2 separate regions of the Homo sapiens genome follow, and region 2 is linked to region 1. The links come from fine-mapping of genetic effects on gene expression. Tissue or cell type: monocytes. Region 1 holds a variant in brackets; the other region holds the start of a gene. All regions are shown on one strand. Distances are from middle to middle.

What was found. PIP is the estimated chance that this variant, and not a neighbour inherited with it, causes the effect.
Region 2: it holds the start of GALNT11, and the variant in region 1 is fine-mapped to the expression of GALNT11 in monocytes (Quach 2016, PIP 0.94).

Annotation. Positions count from the first base shown.
Region 1 is chr7:152,694,710-152,702,814 of GRCh38, forward strand. No RefSeq gene overlaps it. Among named protein-coding and RNA genes, the nearest start is that of XRCC2, 23 kb to the left of the region's middle. The variant C/CT (reference allele first, on the strand shown) is at 4,444.
Region 2 is chr7:152,021,298-152,029,402 of GRCh38, forward strand. It overlaps GALNT11 (polypeptide N-acetylgalactosaminyltransferase 11), which reads left to right and starts at 4,377. Exons shown (of 12, transcript NM_022087.4): 1 at 4,377-4,587. RefSeq lists silencers at 3,067-3,361, 4,212-4,911.

The DNA.
Region 1 (8,105 bases):
TGAGTTGGGAAGCTCATTTTTACCCATTTTACTCACTTTAGACTTGAAAGTATTTTTTATTCTTGCTAGTCTCCCAAGACCTCCTGTCAAACTGAAATATATAACTTTTTTTCATTTTTGATCTTCGCATTTGTAAGGGATAAATAATTGATTAGCATAGGAATTATGGGAATATATTTAGCTTATGCTCAGCACTAAACTATTTTTAAATGTCCTCAGGCATCAACCCAAAATGTACATCCAAAGGGTGTCAATTGGAAATTGGGAAATGGAGTGACAGTATAGATTAGAACGATGAAATGGCAAATGCAACCGGAGGAATAGCAGTTGTCAGTTTCACTGCAACTTCAACAGTCAGTCTACCTTGCTGTATTTTTAAAAATTCCTTAAATGGGTCGGGTGCGGTGGCTCACGCCTGTAATCCCAGCACTTTGGGAGGCCGAGGCAGGCTGATCACCTGAGGTCAGGAGTTTGAGACCAGCCTGACTAACATGGTAAAACCCCGTCTCTACTAAAAATACAAAAATTAGCTGGGTGTAGTGGCAGGTGCCTGTATTCCCAGCTACTCGAGAGACTGAAGCAGGAGAATTGCTTGGACCCAGAAGGCAGAGGTTGCAGTGAGCCGAGATCGCACCTTGGCACTCCAGCCTGGGAGACAGAGTGAGACTCTATCTGAAAAAAAAAAAAAAATCCCTAAATGTCTCTCTGATAAGACTATAACCTCAGGTCAGGCGTGGTGGATCATGCCTCTAATCCCAGCACTTTGGGAGGCCGTGGCAGGCGGATCACGAGGTCAGAGGTTCGAGGCCAGCCTGGCCAACACGGTGAAACCCGTCTCTACTAAAGATACAAAAAATTAGCCGGGCGTGGTGGTGGGCGCCTGTAATCTCAGCTACTCAGGAGGCTGAGGCAGGAGAATCATTTGAACCCGGGAGGCAGAGGTTGCAGTGGGCAAAAAAAAAAGACTATAACCTCTTTGAGAGCAGAATCTTCCCTTCTAATTTCACAAAATTGTGTTGAAAGCAGAAACTTCAGACCAGGTACAGTGGTTCATGCCTGTAATCTCAGCACTTTGGGAGGCTGAGGGGGGCGGATCACTTGAGGACAGGAGTTTGAGACCAGCCTGGCCAACATGGTGGAACCCCATCTCTACTGAAAGTACAAAAATTAGCCAGGGGTGGTGGCATGTGCCTGTAATCCCAGCTACTGGGGAGGCTGAGGAAGGAGAATTACTTGAACCCAGGAGGCAGAGGTTGCAGTGAACACAGATCATGCCACTGCACTCCAGCCTGGGCCACAGGAGCAAGACCCCATTTCCAAAAAAAAAAAAAAAAAAAAAAGCAGAAACTTCAAAATGAATTGAAGAAAAAGTAAAATTTTAAAAACTTTATTTTAATATAAGATCACTTAACATGAGAGCTACGCTCCTAATACATTCTAAGTGGATAGGGTACTGGATAGGGTACTGTTAACTATAGGGACAATGTTGCACAGCAGATCTCCAGAACTCACTCAGCCCCCATCATCAAAACTTTATGCCTGTTAATTAGCTGCTCCCCATTCCCCCTCCGCCAGCTCTTGGCAGCCATCATTCTACTCTCTGATTCTTTGAGTTTGACTATTTTAGATGTCTCATATGCATGTAGTCATGCAGTATTTGTCCTTCTGTGACTAGCTTAATTCACTTAGCATAATGTTCTCCAGTTTTGTCCATGTCCTTGCATATTGCAGGATTTCCTTTTGTTTTAAGGCTCCACGATATTGCATTGTATGTATATACCACCCTTGCTTTATCCACTCATCCATCCATGGACATTTAGGTTGCTTCCATAGCATTGCTATTCTGAATAATGCTACAGTGAACACTGGATTAGGGTTGATTTCTAAATATATAAAGAACTCCTACAATTCAATAGCAAAGCAAAAACAGCAAATAACCTGGTTTTACAAAGTATATGGGACATGAACTCAAATATGAAGAAATTTTTTTTTTTTTTTTGATACGAAGTTTTGCTCTTGTCGCCCAGGCTGGAGTGCAATGGCACGATCTCGGCTCACTGCAACTCCAGCCTGGGCAACAAAGTGAAATTCTGTCTCAAAAAAAAACAAAAAACAAAAAAACAAAAAACCCAGTCTCTACTAAAAATACAAAAATTAGCCGGGTATGGTGGTGTGTTCCTGTAGTTCCAGCTACTGGGGACGCTGAGGCAGGAGAATCGCTTGAACCAGGGAGGCGGAAGTTGCAGTGAGCTGAGATCGTGCCATTGGACACTAGCCTTAGGCAACAAGACTGAAACTCGGTCTCAAAAACAATAAAGAATGAATGTGTTGAATATTGAATGGAATAAGAATGAACTAGAGCCCATCTTCCAACCATCTCAAGGCCTATGTTAAATTAACACTGGACTTGCCAGTGTCCCCAGGCTCCTGCGAAAACCATATGTAGATCTTCTCTAGCAAAAGATAACATCATGGCCGGGTGCTGTGGCTCACGCCTGTAATCCCAGCACTTTGGGAGGCCAAGGTGGGTGGATCACGAGGTCAGGAGTTTGAGACCATGCTGGCCAACATAGTGAAACTCCATCTCTAGTAGAGAGACGACAAAAATTTTGTCTCTAGTAGAGAGACAAAAAATTAGCCTGGTGTGGTGGTGTGTACCTGTAATCCCAGCTACCTGGGAGGCTGAGGCAGGAGAAACACTTGAACCCAGGAGGCAGAGGTTGCAGTTAGCCAAGATGGCGCAATTGCACTCCAGCCCAGGCAATAGTGTGAGACTCCACCTCAAAAAAAAAAAAAAAAAAAAAAAAGATAACATCATAGTGGAGCTGCCTGCCAGCCCCAGTGCAGGATCCACTGGGTGAAGCCAGCTGGGATCCTGAGTCTGGTGGGGACGTGGAGAACCTTTATGTCTAGCTCAGGGATTGTAAATACGTCAATCGGCACTCTGTATCTAGCTCAAGGTTTGTAAACACACCAATCAGCACCCTCTGTCTAGCTCAGGGTTTGTGAATGCACCAGTCGACACTCTGTATCTAGCTAATCTGGTGGGGACGTGGAGAACATTTGTGTCTAGCTCAGGGATTGTAAAGGCACCAATCAGCGCCCTGTCAAAACAGACCACTTGGCTCTACCAATCAGCAGGATGTGGGTGGGGCCAGATAAGAGAATAAAAGCAGGCTGCCCGAGCCAGCAGTAGCAACCCGCTCGGGTCCCCTTCCACACTGTGGAAGCTTTGTTCTTTCGCTCTTTGCAATAAATCCTGCTGCTGCTCACTCTTTGGGTCCACACTGCCTTTATGAGCTGTAACACTCACCGCGAAGGTCTGCAGCTTCACTCCTGAAGACAGCGAGACCACGAACCCACCAGGAGGAACGAACAACTCCAGACAAGCTGCCTTAAAAGCTGTTAACACTCACCGTGAGGGTTCACGGCTTCATTCTTGAAGTCAGTGAGACCAAGAACCCACCAATTCCGGACACAATAGTAGACTCAAGTTATTTCTTCAATACTTAAGACAATTATTATTTCTACTTACTTTACTCCTCATGAACCTATTTATTTATTTATTTTTGAGACAGAGTCTCACTTTGTCGCCTAAGCTGGAGTGCAATGGAGCGATCTTGGCTCACTGCAACCTCCGCCTCCCAGGTTCAAGTGACTCTCGTGCCTCAGTCCCCCGAGTAGCTGGGACTACAGGTGTCCTGACCTCAAGTGATCCACCGGTCTCAGCTTCCCAAAGTGCTGCGATTACAGGCGCCTGGCCTTCCTATTTACTTTTCATTGTGTGCAAGACATTCTGTAAAAATGTAAAAATAAAAAATAAATAGGCTCATGAGGAGTCAAATAAGTAGAAGTAATAATTGCCTTAATTATTGAAGAAATAATTTGAGTCTACTCTGATGTTACCTTTTGCTAGGGAAGATCTACATATGCTTTTGTCAGGAGCCTGGGGACACTGGTAATTCCAGTGTTAATCTAATATAGGCCTTGAGATGGTTGGAAGCTGGGCTTTAGTTCACCCTTATTCCTAGGGTCTAGCCCTTGAGTTTCCCAACCCAAAGCATGATTTTTTTCCCCCAAGATTTCCTCTCATTTGTAGGTCCTCCTCACCAGGCTGTTGAAACATCTGCTCAGCTTCTCAATCTTTCGAGACCTCATTAAACGCCCTGGGAGAACAGTAGCCCTAAAGCTGGGCTCATCTTCTTGGATTTACTTCTGTGGATCTCAGTCCTGTAACTCTTTAATTCTTTATTGTGTTGTGAGCTCCCCCAATGCCTTAAAGCAAATTATTCTTAGATTTTCTGCTGCCTTGCAGTTGTTTTCAGTGGAAGGGTGGTTCCTCATTATCTAGTCTGCCATTTTCAGAGATATCAAGCTCAATCCTTATGAAAATTTTATTCTTACCAAACAAGCTAATAGTAAATAAACAAAATACAGGGTTGC[C/CT]TTTTTTTTTTTAATGTCACTTTCTGTTTCTTTAGTCATTGGTGAAGATGCTATTAAAGTACTTTCTAAATAACTGAGAAGCAAGGCAGATGGCCAAGCAAGATAAAGGAAAAGATCAGGTTAATTCACAAACTGTGTATTCAGCCTGAACAATGGAGATAAAAGAGATATTCCCCAAATTAGACTGAGCAGACATCCTCCTTTTTAAAGGGCAATCCCATTTTCAGTATTTATGTCTTATTTGTTCCCTGAGGCAAATGTCTCTTTATGCAAAGCATAAAGTAATCAGGTATTTCATCAGGTAGGAAAGAACTTGTTTTTTACTCCCTCTGTGACCTGGAGTTGTGCACAGCATATGTCACATCAGGGGTGTCAGCAGCACCAAGTTGAAGATTCAAGCAAGACAGGTGACCTTATAAAAAGGACTGTGAAGAGTTAGGCATCAAAACAAAACACAGCATTCTAAGCCTGGGCCACAGTAACTCAGCCAAAGTGGGCATGAGCTAAGGAGGCAAGATGGCATTGGCCATCACCAGAGGTCAGCAGACCTGGACAGGGCCACAGCAGCTGGAAGGAGCTTGGTGAGACACTGTAGCTGGGGCAGTCTGCTTTCATCTCCTTGTCCAGTGCCAGCCTCTTTCTCAATGGGACCAGCCCAAAGGAATGCAAGGGAAGGGGATTTCACACTGGCTTCTGTGGGCAAAGAGGGAAGTGGAGTTTTTTTTTTTTTCTTTTTTTTTGAGACAGAGTCTTGCTCTGTCGCCCAGGCTGGAGTGCAGTGGTGCAATCTCGGCTCACTGCAGCCTCGGGAAGTGGAATTTGATACCTCTCCTAACAGGTAATTGCAGCCTCCAGAAGCCAAAGCCAGGGTGGCATTTCCCCAGAGTGGATCCTATGTCTCTCCCTGGCTTGACAACTGCTTCAGGACAGGGATAATGTTTGTTGGTAAGATCTGCTATGGTGCTGATTTGAAACTGAAAAAGGGATTAAATGCACAAGCAGAAAAGCATAAGGAAAAAACCAACACAGGGTCGCGCCTTCTCTCCTGCCTCGGTCCAACAAGCACTGCTCATCCAGCATTGCTGTGCTCCTGAGAGGAGAAGGCCCTTTTCTCCCCTCCTCTGGAAGGAAACGGGGCAGAACAAGACAACCTCACTTCCCTTGCCTCTCTCGCCTCTTCTGCCTCTACCTAATAACCTACGAATAGCATCTCTAAATTAATAGGGAACTTAGTGATACCATCAGGACCCCATCCTTACTCAAAGTAGGAATTCCTTTTAAAAATTTGCGTCTCCTGGGCCGGGCGCGGTGGCTCACGCCTGTAATCCCAGCACTTTGGGAGTCCGAGGTGGGCGGATCACGAGGTCAGGAGATCGAGACCATCCTGGCTAACACGGTGAAACCCCGTCTCTACTAAAAATACAAAAAAAAATTAGCCGGGCATGGTGGTGGGCGCCTGTAGTCCCAGCTACTCGGGAGGCTGAGGCAACAGAATGGCGTGAACCTGGGAGGCAGAGCTTGCAGTGAGCCGAGATCATGCCACTGCACTCCAGCCTGGGCGACAGGGCAAGACTCCCTCTCAAAAAAAAAAAAAAAAGAAAAATTTGGGCCTCCTGGTTGACAAGACCCTGTTTAAGTGCTGTCAAAGTCAGAAAAACTGTTAGGACATTCCTTTATTTTTGTTTTATTGTATATTAAAATACACGCAGAGCCTGGCATGGTGGCTCACGCCTGTAATTCCAGCACTTTGGGGGGCTGAGGCAGGCGGATCAATTGAGGTCAGGAGTTCGAGACCAGCCTGGCCAACATGGTGAAACCCCTTCTCTACTAAAAATACAAAAAAATTAGCTGGGCCTGGTGGCACGTGCCTGTAATCTCAACTACTCAGGAAGCTGAGGCAGGAGGATCACTTGAACCCGGGAGGCAGAGGTTGCAGTGAGTCGAGATCGCGCCACCACACTTCAGTCTGGTAGACAGAGCAAGACCCTGTCTCAAAATAAATAAATAAATAAGGCCGGGCGTGGTGGCTCACGCCTGTAATCCCAGCACTTTGAGAGGCCGAGGCGGGTGGATCATCTGAGGTCAAGAGTTCCAGACCAGCCTGGCCAACATGGGGAAACCCAGTCTCTACTACAATACAAAAAAATTAGCCGGGTGTGGCCAGGCGCGGTGGCTCATGCCTGTAATCCCATCACTCTGGGAGGCAGAGGCGGGCAGATCACGAGGTTAGGAGTTCGAGACCAGCCTGGCCAATATGATGAAACCCCGTCTCTACTAAAAATACAAAAATTAGCCAGGCCTAGTGGTGCGTGCCTGTAGTCCCAGCTACTCAGGAAGCTGAGGCAGAAGAATCGCTTGAACCTGGGAGGTGGAGGTTGCAGTAAGCCAAGATCACATCACTGCACTCCAGACTGGGCAACAGAGTGGGACTCTGTCTCAAAAAAAAGAAAAAGAAAAAAGAAAAAATATATATACGTAAAATAAAATAAAATAAAATAAAATAAAATACATGCAGAACAAAAGAGTGTGCTGGGCGGGCCATTCCCCACCCTTCTTCAGTCTCCCTGTGGCAACCATTGTCAGGTTCTGTGTGTGTGTGTGTGTGTGTGTGTGTGTGTGTGTGTGTGTTTGAGATGGAGTCTCGCTCTGTCGCCCAGGCTGGAGTGCAGTGGCGCCATCTCGGCTCACTGCAAGCTCCACCTCCTGGGTTCACGCCATTCTCCTACCTCAGCCTCCCGAGTAGCTGGGACTACAGGCGCCCGCCACCATGCCCAGCTAATTTTTTGTATTTTTTTAGTAGAGACAGAGTTTCACCATGTTAGCCAGGATGGTCTCAATCTCCCGACCTCGAGATCCGCCTGCCTCGGCCTCCCAAAGTGCTGGGATTACAGGCGTGAGCCCCTGCGCCCAGCCTCCATGTGTTTTTAATAGGAGGGTTTTGTACACGTGGAATATGATAAAACACACTTCCTTCAACCAGCACCACACATATATTTTTATACAAAATGACAATAGGCTGGGCATGGTGGCTAACACAGTACATCAGGAGGCCAAGGAGGGAGGACACTTGAGGCCAGGAGATCATACCAGCCTGGGCAACATTGCAAGACCTCATCTCTACAAAAAATAAAATAAATTAGCCAGGCATGGTGTCACGCATCTGTAGTCCCAGCTACCCAGGAGACTGAGGATGGCTTCAGCCCAGGAGTTCAAGGCTGCCGTGAGCTATGATCACACCACTGCCCTCCAGCCTGGGTGACAGTTCGAGATCCTGTCCCAAACAACAGCAACAATAAAAATGACAACATAATTGTGGATCAAATTCCATTTTTTTTTCTTTTGAGATAAGGTCTCACTCTGTCACCCAGGCTGGAGTGCAGTGGTCTCAGCTCACTGCAGCCTCAAGCTCCCCAGCCTCAGGTGATCCTCCCATCTCAGCTTCCTGAGTAGCTGGGACTGCAGGTGTGTGCCACCATGCCCAGCTAATTTTTGCATTTTTTTATAGAGAGAGGGTTTCATCATGTTGCCCAGGCTAGTATTAAATTTCATTTTGAGCACTCAAATTGACAGAAAGTTGTACCTAAAATTGAACTGGCCAGGCACAGTGGCTCACGTCTGTAATTCCAGCACTTTGGGAGGCCGAGGCGGGCGGATCACGGGGT
Region 2 (8,105 bases), 670 kb before region 1:
CAGGCTGGTCTTGAACTCCTGACCTCAGGTGATCCACCCGCCTCGGCCTCCTAAAGTGCTGGGATTACAGGTGTGAGCTACTGCGCCCGGCCGCAAATAACCCCTTTATACCTATCTATTTAGCAAAATACTGCATAAAATCTATTGCTAGACAGACATGAGCTGATCTATTACAGACAGCCACTTGATTGATCCTTTAAAAGGTTGATCTGGCAGCACAAAACGAGTGCCACGCTTGATTGTATTCTTGGCCCATATATTATTTATACCTTTCCTGCCTCTAGAAAGTCATTTAAAAATTAATCATAATAAACCCATGAGTCTACTAAAATTATGATAAAATGCAAAACAGGCCAGGCGCGGTGGCTCACGTCTGTAATCCCAGCACTTTGGGAGGCTGAGGCGGGTGGATCACGAGATCAGGAGTTTGAGATCAGCCTGGCCAACATGGTGAAACCCGGTCTCTACTAAAAATACAAAAAAATTAGCTGGGCATGGTGGCGCACGCCTGTAATCCTAGCTACTCAGGAGGCTGAGGCAGGAGAATTGCTTGAACCTGGGAGGCAGAGGTTGCAGTGAGCTGAGATTGCACCACTGCACTCTAGCCTGGGCGACGGAGTGAGACTCCGTCAGGAAAAAAAAAAAAAAAGCAAAACAGAACCCGGCTCAGTGGCACGTGCCTGTAATCCCAGCTATTTGGGAGGCACAAGAATCGCTTGAACATGGGAGGTGGAGGTTGCAGTGAGCCGAGACCAAGACCAAGATCACACCACTGCACTCCAGCCTGGGTGACAGAGACTGTCTCAAAAAACAAACAAACAAAAAGCAAAATAGAAATCTTGTAGCTGAAAAAATAAAAGAGAATTATAGTAGTATAAATATGGAGTATCTTCTTAAAGTAACAGTTTTTTTCTAGTTGAAATTTGAGAATATATATATGTTATATATAATTATTATATGTAATATATAAATGATATATATGTAACATTAAAAAGTATATTTTTTTTCTGGTAAGCATAAAGAATGGATGCTGTAAATATCAGCTTTCCCAAAAGCAAAAGACAGGAGTGTTCTCTTTTGTTAAAAGCCGTGGGCCTAATATTAAGTCTTAGTTTTGTAATGTAATTTAGTTTAGGTACTAGATAACACAGATAAGTCCTAGAAATTGTTCAGCATGTCCCTTGGACAGTATCTTCTTAAATATTGCTTCAGTTGACCCTAAAATAGAAAAGAAATCAGAATCAATATCCAAATATTTGGTGTGATTAAAGGGAAATTGATACTTGCCTATAGATGGCAATTTTTTGTTTTTGTGTGGAAATTTAAAAATCTGATTTGTATTTTGAAGCTAGTTGAAAAGTATCTGGTAACCTGCTTAGGGTTTCTTACAAAACAGTTTTTGGTATGATGGAATGCTCAAACAAGTCTGAAATTAAGCCCAGGAGTTCTGTAACTAAAACATCCTTCTAGGAATTTATCCCAAGACACACCTGTATGAAACAACAACTAAGAAGAGCTGACATTTGCTGAGCTTTTACTACGTTTCATACTCTGTTATAAGTAGTCTGCATGGATTATCTCCTTTCATTCATACAACAACTTTATGAGTTCTACTGCTATCCTCATTTCATAGATGAGAAAACGATGGTTAGAATGTGCCCAGGTTAACGTTGCCCTATTTGGCTAATAAAAATACAGGATGCCTGGTTAAACTTGAATTTCAAATAGACAATAACATTTTACTGTACATATGGCTACATTCTGAATGTGTCTTCCATAATTCATGTTGAAACAACTGACAAAGCAACAGCACTACAGTTTGAATACCTTTTATCCCCACCAAAATTCATGTTGAGGCTTGGACCCCAGGGTAACAGTGTTGAGACAGAGTAGGACCTTTAAGAGGCATTTGAGCCATGAGGGACCAGCCCCCCATGAAAAGATTAACGCAGTCACTGAGAGTTCCCAGTCTCTTGAGACTGGATTAGGTACCTTGAGAGCGGGTTGTTAATAAGTAACATTGCCCCTTTAGCCAGTGCGCGCTTCCTCTTCCGATTCTCTGCCACGTTATGATGTAGCACAAAGCCCTCACCAGCAGCCTACCAGATACGGCTGCTGGATCTTGTACTTCCCAGCCTCCAGGAGAGTGGGAAAACAAATTTGTTTTTAAACTACCTAGTCTCAGGTATTTTATTATGGCAGCACAGATGAAGACAAGCCTCTCACATATTGCACAGGATATACTTAAACCACAAAATTATTCTTAATCTGGAATTCAAATTTCAGGCCATCCTGTATTTCATCTGGCAACTGTATCCAAGGACAAACAATAACACGGCCCTTACATGATCCTAATCAGCGTGGCCTCAAAGATTGTGTTTAACCAGAATGATACGCTGAAAAGAGCATTTTAGTGTCATTCTGTATGATAGTGAAAAATTGGAGCTAACCCAAATCCTCAATTACGAGAATAATGGTTAAGTAATTATTGCACATTAATCAGGTAGAATAGTATTTAAAGTAATAAACAGATGCATCTCATACTCATCAGGTTGGCAAATATTTAAATATCTGATACTATCAAGGGTCAGGAGAAGATGAAACAATGGAAATTTACATGCCCTGATTAATCCTAGAGCATGATTTCAAATGTTAATTTGTGTATAAATCACCTGGAAATCTTGGTAAAAATGCAGATTTTAATTAAGTAGGTGGAGCACAAGACTCCCCATTTCTAACACACTCCAGGTGACGTTGGTGTCGCTTGTTGCTGGACCACCATTTGAGTAGTGAGGCCCTAAAGGTCTGGTCTTCAAACTCTTTTGCTTGAGTATATACTAAAATAATAAGGTTTAAATACAAGAACTTAGTATCCCCTTATACATATTTAAGGTGATATTTAACATTTTTCATTACTAGTTTAGGTAGTTGGAAGGATTACTTTCTGGAAACATATTTATGTATTTAAATAAACTTGTAATACACTTTTAAATATACCTAGTAGACTTTGCCCTAGTTTGCCTGCCACTGCTGTGAATAGTTTCTGAGGGGGATCCCAGCAGGATTGATCCCCAATGACGCTTATTTGATATTATACTATGTATATTTTACATGAGCTGCAACCATTGAAGGAAACTGGGCAAAGATACCTGTGTGCTGTCTGCACTGCCCTTGCAAGAGAAACCAGTACCTGAAATATCTGTCAATCTCCAATCAAGACACAAGCATGGTAGAAGGAGTCAAAAGCATTCAACTTGGCACCCAGCAGCAGTTCTCTTTGGCTGAGGGAAGTGGCCACAAGACTCAGCTGGGGGCCATCAGCGGCCTACACACCCAACAACTGGAGAAATGAGTCCTCAGTCCTTAAGGGGAAACCTGGGTGGTACAACATGGCATCCCCTACACCCTGACAACCCCATGGGGTATCTGTGGAAGAGGGGCTGGGGAATGTGGTTAGCTCAGTTCAGCTCAAGAAGGCCACTACTTTGGTTCAGGTGGTGCTCTTTAATTTATAGTAGCTGTAGAAGTTCCTCCATTGCTACGCGTGTACCCCATCAGACTTTAATTGTGAAGCAATGAGTTCTTTAAAAAAGTTCAAAAATATTCTTAACCAAGTGGGATTTATTTCAGAAATGCAAAGAAGATTAGTATTAAGATATTCTTCAATATAACTTGGCATTATTGGCCAAAGATGAATGCCCACACCATTTTTCTTAAAAATTGCCAATTCCCCTTTTATGGTATTTGTATACATTGCACTATTATCACCAAGGTATGAGTGTTTTTTTCACCACTTCTCTCTTTACACCTTAATCTACATTTTCTTCTATCACAAGTGGCGTTTAACTTCTTTTAATATGTTTAAGGGCATTTGTCTTTTTTTTTTTTTTTCACTTATGGGGTCTCGCTGTATTGCCCAGGCTGGAGGGCAGTGGCTATTCACAGGCGCGATCCCGCTACCGATCAGCACAGGAGTTTTGCCCTGCCCGGTTTCCGAGCTGGGCCAGTTCCCCACTCCTTGGGGAACCTGGTGGTCCCTGCTCCCGGGAGGTCACCACACCGATGCGGAACACAGATGCGTGTCGCCGCGCAATGGGCACAGCGCATACAGCGCAGAGCTCCCGGGCTCAAGCGCTGCTCCCGCCTCAGCCTCCGGAGTAGCCGGGGCCACAGGCAGGGCATTTGTCATTAATGGGGTCTTTTGAGACCGCGGGTGACAGACAACAGGAGCCAGGCCACGCGCGGCGCCTCTGCGCGAACGCTAGGGAGGACTCAGCGCGCGGCGGCCGGTGACGTCAGGGCAGCGAGAGGTTTCGTCACCGCGGCGCGGGGGCGGGGCCGCCTGTCACGCGGCGCCGGCGGACGCGCGGCGCTGGGCGGAGGCAGCGGCTCGGGGACTGGGCGAGGGCCCTGGGCCTGAGGAGGCGCGGCCGCCACTGCGCCCAGCGCCTGCGCGACGCCTGGCTGCTGGGCCCCGGGGCAGTTCAGCCCGCGCCGCTCCTGCGGGTCGGACTGGGGCTGTGGCGGGAGAGAAGATGCCGCAGCCCGAGTCCCAGAAGGCGGCGATCCTGGGCTGCGGGCAAGGCGGTGAGTACCCTCTAGGCGGCGGCCTCCCGGCGTCCCTCAGCACCTCGAGAGCTGCGGCGGCGGCGGCGCGCGGGGCCTGGGCAGGCTGGGGGCGGCGGCGGGGCAGCGCCTGGCTCCCCGCGGGTCCTGGGCTCCCGCACGCCCCCTGGGCGAGGCTCGTGTCTCCGGGAGACGCCGCTGCCCCCGCGCCTCCCCCAGCGTCTCCTGAGGCTTGTTCGCGGGCGTGGGGGCGAGGACCAGGGCGCTGGCCTCGTTTTCGCGTATTTAGGACGGAGGCACACCTGATCCTGCAGCCTCCCCCAGCATTTCCTAAAATGAAGTCCAGATCAGTATTGTCCACTTTTTAAAATTAAAAGTGCCCAGAAATAGAATAGTTCACACATACACAAAACTAGGGAGAATAGTGTGGAAGGAAATTTAATCTCGGGACCCCAAATCACTAAGCCAAAGTCAAGCTGGGAGCTGCGTCAGGCAAACCTGCCCCTAAGTTTTGTTCCTAAGACAGCTGCAAAGATAAAAAGCCACACAGCTCCCTCACCCTTTGGCCAGGAGGAAATTCGCTGTGGACCTCCACATCTTTACCCTGAAACAGTTGTGTGGAATTGCACCCTGGCAGTGTAAATTGACAGCTTGTCTTCGCAGGTGAGGAACAGGGACAGAACTCAAGTCATCCTTCTGCTCACCTGAGACAGATGCATGTCTGACGGCTTCCTCTGCCCTGTATTTATGTAAAAATGCAGATTCACTGAGCCAGACTAAGGCACAAGTGGCTATTCCTCTGCCTGCCCCATGGCGTAAATTGTGTGTTCAGTAAAAGGCAGAGCAGAGGCTCAAAAGAATGTAGCCGTTTGTCTCTCATCTTACCCATGACCTGGAAGCCGCCACTTTGAGTTGTCCCACCTTTCCTGCCCGAACTAGTCTATACCTGTATTTGATTGAAGACTCATGTTCCCCTACAATGTATAAAACTAGGCTGTGCCCCCACCACCTTGGGTACATGCTCTCAGGATCTCTTGAGGGCAGTGTCATGGGCCATAGACACTCATTTCGCTCAGAATAAATCTCTTTAAAAATTTTTTTATTAGCCGGGTGCGGTGGCTCACGCCTGTAATCCCAGCACTTTGGAAGGCCAAGGCGAGCGGATCACGAGGTCAGGAGATCAAGACCATCCTGGCTAACACGGTGAAATCCCGTCTCTACTAAAAATACAAAAAATAAGCCGGGCGTGGTGGCAGGCGCCTGTAATCCCAGCTACTTGGGAGGCTGAGGCAGGAGAATGGCGTGAATCGAGGAGGCAGAGCTTGCAGTGAGCCGAGATCACGCCACTGCACTCCATCCTGGGTGACAGAGCGAGACTCCATCTCAAAAAAATTTATTTTTAATTTTTGTGGGTACATAGTAGGCATATGTATTTATAGGTACATGAGATATTTGATATGGCATAGAATGCATAATCACATCAGGATAAGCAGGGTATCCATCTTCTCAAGCATTTATCCTTTGTTAGTGCTACAAACAACCTGCAAGGCTCTTGTATTGGTTTGAACCCCGATGACGCACCAACAACCCCCACGACATGAGGCGGTGTGGAGCAACATGCTGTTTTAATAAGCGCCTGGGTGCAGACGGGTTTATGCCTAAATGGCATCAGCCCCAAGTGAGGAATGGGTTTTATAATAGCATCAGCCCCAAGTGAGGAAGGGGTTTTATAGTCCTCTGTAAGCAGGAAGTGTCCCAGTCTGACGTGGCTGCTGCGTAAATGTGTCCGGAATTGGTTCCTTCCAGTGGATTCTTGGTCTCGCTGACTTCAAGAATGAAGCCACGGACTGTCGCGGTGAGTGTTACAGTTCTTAAAGATGGTATGTCGAGAGTTTGTTCCTTCTGATGTTCAGATGTGTCCAGAGTTTCTTCCTTCTGGTGGGTTCGTGGTCTTGCTGACTTCAGGGATGAAGCCGCAGACCTTTGCAGTGAGTGTTACAGCTCTTAAAGGTGGCACGTCTGGAGTTGTTTTTTCCTCCCAGTGGGTTCATGAGCTCACTGACTTCAGGAGTCAACCTGCAGACCTTCGCAGTGAGTGTTACAGGTCTTAAAGGTGGCATGTCGAGAGTTGTTTGTTCCTCGCAGTAGGTTTGTGGTCTCACTGACTTCAGGAGTGAAGCCACAGACCTTCACAGTCAGTGTTACAGCTCATAAAGTTAGTGCAGACCCAAAGAGTGAGCAGCAGCAAGATTTATTGCAAAGAATGAAAGAGCAAAGCTTCCACAGCATGGAAGGGGACCCGAGCAGGTTGCCGCTGCTGGCTCCAGTGGCCTGCTTTTATTCCCTTATTTGGCCCCACCCACATCCTGCTGATTGGTCCATTTTACAGAGAGCTGATTAGTCCATTTTAGAGTGCTGATTGCTCTGTTTTACAGAGTGCTGATTGGTCTGTTTTACAGAGTGCTAATTGGTCGGTTTTTACAGAGTGCTGATTGGTGCGTTTACAAACCTTTAGCTAGACACAGAGCGCTGATTGGTGCATTTACAATCCTTTAGCTAGACAGAAAAGTTCTCCAAGTCTGCTACCCAGTTAGCTAGTCACAGAGCACTGATTGGTGCATTTACAATCCTTTAGCTAGACTGAAAAGTTCTCCAAGTCCCCTACCCGATTAGCTAGACACAGAGCACTGATTGGTGTGTTTACAAACCTTTAGCTAGACACAGAGCCCTGATTGGTGCATTTACAATCCTTTAGACAGAGTAGTTCTCCAAGTCCCCACCCGACCCAGAAGCACAGCCAGCTTCACCTCTCAATCCCCCCCCTCTAAACAGGACACCCCAACTGCTGTTGGGAATTTGGCCAATGACTGCTGTAGCTACTTCCTGCTGGATAGGGGTGAAGAAGGGGCCCTGCAATTGTAGTGTCCTCCAGAGGGGAACTCTTTAGGCCAGTGAAAGGGCCAGCAGGTTGGTCCAGGGGTCCTGGTAGAAGTTTAGTTGAGCTCATTTGGAGTTCCATTTGTAAGACCATCTGTAGCTTGATGGTCTCAATTCTAGAGGAAACAAATTTGAAAAGGAGGTTAAAAATACAGGGCCCGAAGGCAAGTAATAGCAAGATGGCTGCCACAGGACCTAGAAAGGGGAGAAGCCATGTTGTCCAACTCCAGAGGTTGGTGTAAGAGTTTGAAAGGCGTCTGATTTCAGAAGCCTTTTCCTATAAATGTTGGGTGGCATCTCATACTATCCCTGACTGGTTAGTGTAAAAACAACACTCTTCCCCTAAGAAGGTGCAGAGTCCTCCTTTCTCAGCAGTGAGGAGGTCTAGGCCTCGGTGGTTTTGGAGAGTCATTGCTGCCAAAGAGTCTATTTGGAATTGTAGTTACTATCCTTACTGGATAGATTTTGTTATTTCTTGCAAACTCTCTTGAGAAATCCTTTGAGAGTGTGGTAGTAGGATAATGAAGTAGGTAAACTGGCTATTCCAGTTCCTGTAGCAGTGGCCATTTCTAACCCTATAGGTAGGGGTATTAGTTGTATGG